Linked DNA regions of Homo sapiens: region 1 is linked to region 2. The links come from fine-mapping of genetic effects on gene expression. A gene starts in region 2. The other region holds a variant in brackets. All regions are shown on one strand. Distances are from middle to middle. Region 1 overlaps ARHGEF12 (Rho guanine nucleotide exchange factor 12). Region 2 holds the start of ARHGEF12 (Rho guanine nucleotide exchange factor 12).

Region 1 (2,912 bases), 110 kb after region 2:
TGATCTATATATCAATATTAAAGTATAAGAAGAATCCTTACACTTTGATTAATTTGCTAATTATACTTTTATGCTACAGCTCACATTTATTTCATATATACACCATCATACAGAAATGAGCTTTTATTACTTTTTTGCACTTGAGCTAGAAATGCTTTTAAGAAAGTTGATTTGAGCTACTGCCTGTCAAAGAGAAAGTTTTAAAATCCATTTTACTTTTCTTCAAATGAATATAAAGAGATCTTACAATTTTTAGCGGTGACTTATTTTCAAATTTAAAACTTCAGATCTTATAGGATGTGTTTAAATTCTGAAATTGTATGACTTAAATAGGTATACAATACAAAATAAGCAGGAAGAGGTTAAGATATTTTCTCTTAATGCAAAATAATAAAGTATTCCCCTCCATTAGTTTGGGGGTGGGGGAAAACAACAGACTGGTAATTATTATGCAAATATTATGGGGAAAATCCTAGCTAGGAATAAGTAAATTCTAAGATAGTCACCTTATTTGGTTCAGTAGCAAGAACTGTAGATGGTTGCTGGAGATTTAAAACTCCAAAAACTCAACATTGACATTCAATATTTTCTCACTGGGAGTGTGACATTGTGAGGGCTCTTAAACTTTACATAGGAAAACGATTAGGAATATTATTGGTCTTCAGAATGAGCATCTCAAATATAGGAAAGAAAAATCATGGCTATATGTGAGTACATTTTTCATATGATAATATACACATAATTTAGGTTTTACCTATATTGATCTAAATGACATATAACTGATTATATTGACCAATGATTCTAGGAAGCCAAAGCCAAAGCCAGTATATTCATTAAGTGTGTCACAGAAGCATTCAGTCATCTAGCTAAACGACTGTAGACTTTTCCTTTATAGCATGATCCTCGGGAAAAGGGCTCATTTTCAAGTTTAAACGATAGAATGTTCTGGAGTTGTGAAATGTGAATGAATAAATGAGCTTGTACTTGATTGTGCTTGTAGAGTGGGTATCCAAGTTGTATCCCCTTACTTTACAGAAGTACTTATGTACATCTTCAAATATCTTTAGCGTTGTTACACCTTTTGTTTGCATTTCATTTTAGCACCTGAAAGTTTCTGTTCCTGATGAAATGTCTGCAGATCTAGGTAAGCTTGGAGCACTAACATCCTGGAGAATTACATCTTAATAGATATGTAGCTCAGCTCATCTGTTCAGGTTTTATCTGTCACATGGTGACTAGTCGATCACCTGAATCACAACAGAAAGACAGTCTATAATACATTTAAAGAGTAAATGAGGCCGGGCGTAGTGGCTCACGCCTGTAATCCCAGCACTTTGGAAGGCCAAGGTGGGTGGATTACCTGAGGTCAAGAGTTCGAGACCAGCCTTGCCAACATGGTGGAACCCTGTTTCTACTGAAAATACA[A/G]AAATGAGCTGGCATGATGGTGCATGCCTGTAATCCCAGCTACTTAGGAGGCTGAGGCAGGAGAATTGCTTGAACACAGGAGGCGGAGGTTGCAGTGAGCTGAGATTATGCCATTAACACTCCAGCCTGGGTGATAAGAGCAAAACTCTGTCTCAAAAAAAATAATAATATGGCTGGGCGCAGTGGCTCACGCCTGTAGTACTCCCAGCACTTTGGGAGGCCGAGGCGGGTGGATCACGAGGTCAGGAGATCGACCATCCTGGCTAACACAGTGAAACCTTGTCTCTACTAAAAAACAAAAAAGTAGCTGGGCGTGGTGGCGGGCGCCTGTTGTCTCAGCTACTCAGGAGGCTGAGGCAGGAGAATGGCATGAACCCCGGAGGTGGAGCTTGCAGTGAGCTGAGATCGCGCCACTGCACTCCAGCCTGGGCAACAGAGCAAGACTCCATCTCAAATAATAATAATAATAATAATAATAATAATAATAATAATAGAGTAAATGAAATCAGAATTCTGGGATGAAATATACGAACTGCCCTGAAGAACTTCCCTCTGGCATATTCTAAGTTAATTTGTACGAAGTAGCATTGCTATGTTGCCAATTGTATGTTGCCCAGAACATACCTTTAGATAACATAATTCCTTTCATTTATGAAGAAAAGAGAAGACCTGAGCTCATTCCTGAGGATCTGCATCGCCACTATATCCAAACTATGCAAGAAAGAGTCCATCCAGAAGTTCAAAGGCACTTAGAAGATTTTCGGTAAGCTTAGTGGTAGATAGAATTTCATATGATTATTCTAAATTAATTTTTTTAGTTAAGAAAAAGTTGCTCATTAAATACTTAGCTTAGCACTAGATAAACCATATGGTCTTATTGTTATTAAAACATAATGAACATCTGGAGCCAAAGGGTTAGAGTGGAACTGAGAGTCCAGACTCTCCATTCCAGGCACTTGCAGGATCTGAGCTCAGTGCTGTGTCTATGCTAAGTGTGTTCCTTTAAGATATTGTATGTGTTCTTGGAGTCATTGCTTCTAGAATTTTTTCCTCTGGTATCCTAGATGACATGGACCCATAAGTGGAAAAGTGACATTTTTCCTGTTCCTAGAAACCATAGCTGTGAAGACTGTGATGAAGCGTCCCCAGAATGAGGTAGTTTTTCTTTAGGCTACCTCAGGAAACTTCTCTATTCCCTTCAGGCAGAAACGTAGTATGGGACTGACCTTGGCTGAAAGCGAGCTGACTAAACTTGATGCAGAGCGAGACAAGGACCGATTGACTTTGGAGAAGGAGCGGACATGTGCAGAACAGATTGTTGCCAAAATTGAAGAAGTATTGTAAGTAATAGAAGTATATGTGGAAATGCCCTCTCTGCTGAGATACTAGTTATGCTTGAAGTGTCCTTTGGGTAGGTTTAGAAAAACTGTCAGATTGTGTATGTGGAGCCGTTTATTTTGTCATAGTACTTGAGAAACTGGATTTTT
Region 2 (2,912 bases):
ATTTGCTACTTGGATTCCACAAAATGGCTGAAATCCCTTGTCACCAACATAGGTTTAAGCTCAAAAGTCTGAAAATAGTTGGATAAAGGGAATAGCCACTTTGGATGTTTGCAGGCAGAACTGAAGAACTGTATTACATGTGGTACCTAAATTGCCAAAATACTGAATTATTCAATCATAAAACTAGATGGGTATCTAAAGCTCTCTACCCAGTAGGGGAAAAAACCGAAAAACCGTTTGGGAATCCTTCAGAGAGAACCGTAATGCTATTTACTGGATAAATATACTTCATTTTCTTCTCCCAGTTCTTTCCACAACACGCTTGTTAAGTCGCCATGGAAAGCACCATGCTTTATCAATTTGGCAAATAACACATTTCATTTTGCCAAGGCAGAAACAGCCTAAAAGTAATATTTATACCGAGAAACCCTGGCTGCAGTCCCCAGCTGCTCTCCCGCAGCCCTGCGCCTCCGGCTCATGCAGCGCTCTCCCCCCGGAGCCGGCAGGTGCCCAGGTGAGCGGGGCCTGCGGAGGCAGCGAGGGGCGCCGGCCGGGAACCGGCAGAACGCGTGCAGCCAGAAGACAGGAGAGATAATACATTCCCTTAAGTAATAAAAGTTTCCAGGACAAGGGGGGCTGGTAATTTTCAAAGAGCCTCCCGGCACGATGTCCTCGGGATCTGGGGGGCGCTCTCGGGCGGTCTCTGGTGAAAGTCGACTTAGTACAAACTGGACTCGAAGGGGCATGTCTCGGCACTCAGGGGCCCAGGCGCCGCGGGAGGTGGGTGGGCCTCCCGGGGCTGCACGGGTCCCACCTCCCTCTGCCCCGTAGGACTACTTTGCCGCTCTCCCAAACCGGGCTCCGGCGGAGGCGTCCGTTCAAGGGCGAGAGCGCGGCCCTGAGCGGCGGAGGGATCCCGGGTGAGGCGGCTTCCCGAAGTCAGAGGGGAGGGGGCCATAAAGTCGGCGGGGGACGGGAAGCGCGAGCTCGCGCCGGACGCGGCCAGGGCCGGGAAACCAGAACCGGAACCGGAACCCGCGCGCGCGCCCGCGGTTGCGCGGCCCCCACGGCCGCCGGCCTCCTCCGCTGTCTGCGCGCGCGCCCGCGAGGGCCTCCAGAACCCGGCGAGCCGGCCCTGCGCCGGGAGACGCCGCCGCCTCCGCCTCCCGGACCAGGGCTTCCAGGCCGGGCCGGACGGGCATCTCCCGCCCCTCGCGGGGAGCGTCGGGGAGGAGCCGCCGCCTCTGGCGATTGCGGAAGAGTCCGGGCCTCAAAGGGATGGGGAGCAGTCCGCGGCGCTGAGAGACCCGGGTCCCTGTCACCTCGGGCCGCGGGACCTCTCCGCCGGCGCCAGCGGCTCGTCCCAGCACCGGGAGCCTGGTGAGGGCGGCGAGCACAGAAGGAGCCCCGGGCCCGGGACATGGAATCGCGCGAGCCCGGCGCGGGACGGCCGGAGACGCGGCCAACGCTGCGGCCACGAGCAGCCGGCAGCCCCAGATAGAGAGCCGGGAGGGAGGGCCCCGGCCCTTGCCGCGGCGGGGAGTTCGAGGCCCCGAGACTCCGGAGGAGGAGCCGACACCCGTCCGTGAGCTGATCCCGCCCCAGCCCCGGCGGGAGTCCCGGGTCCCCTTCCCACTGCGCGCGGATTTCCCTCTCTGAGGAAGTTTATCCTTGTGCCTTCTGGAGGATTTCTCTCTAGCTCGACTCACTCTGGACTGACTCGCTCCCTGGCTTTCTCAGTTCGTTTTGGGAGATAACTTGTTTTGCTCCAAGCCGCATCCGTTGACCCCTTACAGTCGGATGGTCTAGATGACTGAATGGAGTTTTGAGTTGGACTTTTGTGTCCCTGACGGAGTTGGGCCTGATCCCAGAGCACTGGGGGTGGGGAGGAGGTGTTACTGTAAAATGCAAGTTGGATAAAAGGAGGACCTCTCGCCAAGGGCCCCAATGAGTGGCACACAGTCTACTATCACCGACAGGTTGGTATGAATTCCTCCTTCGTTCGGCCTCCCGGAATCGGGCCCGACCTAGCAGGGGAGTCGGTGATTGCAGATTGCCTTTGGCCAGCGAAGTTGACAGGCAGAGGAAAGAGGGTTGTTTCGGAGCTGTGCAGTTAGCCTGGGGTTGCTGCCGAGTTATCCAGTTGATTGGCTTTTGGAAATGTAATTTTTCCGGAGAGAAACTTCCCTTCCGATTCTCAGAGAAGGGGGAGGCAAAACCATGATTGTGGTTTTCCGCCTGTAGTGTGCATTAGGATTGTGTACTCGTCTGGAAATCAGAGGAGAAGGTCATTTTAGGTGAAGGTCGGTGCCTGAAGTCGGCTCGGTATTGGTGTATTATTTATCAGCTTTAGCCGTGTCCTGCAGTAGATTCTCAAGACAATTACATTTTAGGAATTTCTACCTGTGAACTTAATGTTGAGCCTACTGCATGGTGATCTGGGAACTTGATCTCTTTCAGATGTTGACCTGCACGGTGTTTAATTATTATCTAATAACTTTCCAGAATGTTGACATTACCAGTAAATCACAGGTTCTTGCTGGAAGCAATGTCCAGGAGCTGAAGAAATGAGGGTAAATCATGGGGTTTGCTTTTAATTCTTGTATTTAAATATTTCGTCTTCCAGAAACACTTGGCGTTTAAGAGATATAAGCCGTAAGCATAGTGTAAGCGCGCAGCTGAATTTGTTGAGTTCTGTGTCTGTCCTTTATAGCACCTACCAGTGTTGCATGGTGGTGGGTGGCGAATTGAGCTAGACCATGTGTGGTTGAAGTGCAGTTTGCTTATCCTAAGTTACTCTTGTTTATAGGGTAAGGGATAAAAAGCATATTGATTCCTTGACCACATTTCATTCTCAATTTAATTATGACACTGCATGCTAGTCCCAAATTTGTCAGCTTGCTTTATTTTTA

The links. PIP is the estimated chance that this variant, and not a neighbour inherited with it, causes the effect.
Region 1: its variant is the best candidate, but not a certain one, in a credible set for the expression of ARHGEF12 in whole blood (TOPMed, PIP 0.56).

What each region holds. Positions count from the first base shown.
Region 1 is chr11:120,444,321-120,447,232 of GRCh38, forward strand. ARHGEF12 (Rho guanine nucleotide exchange factor 12) reads left to right here. Exons shown (of 41, transcript NM_015313.3): 16 at 1,102-1,144; 17 at 2,083-2,188; 18 at 2,628-2,765. Among named protein-coding and RNA genes, the nearest start is that of GRIK4, 66 kb to the right of the region's middle. The variant A/G (reference allele first, on the strand shown) is at 1,426.
Region 2 is chr11:120,335,297-120,338,208 of GRCh38, forward strand. It overlaps ARHGEF12 (Rho guanine nucleotide exchange factor 12), which reads left to right and starts at 1,117. Exons shown (of 41, transcript NM_015313.3): 1 at 1,117-1,979. The coding sequence starts at 1,948. RefSeq lists a silencer at 704-1,573.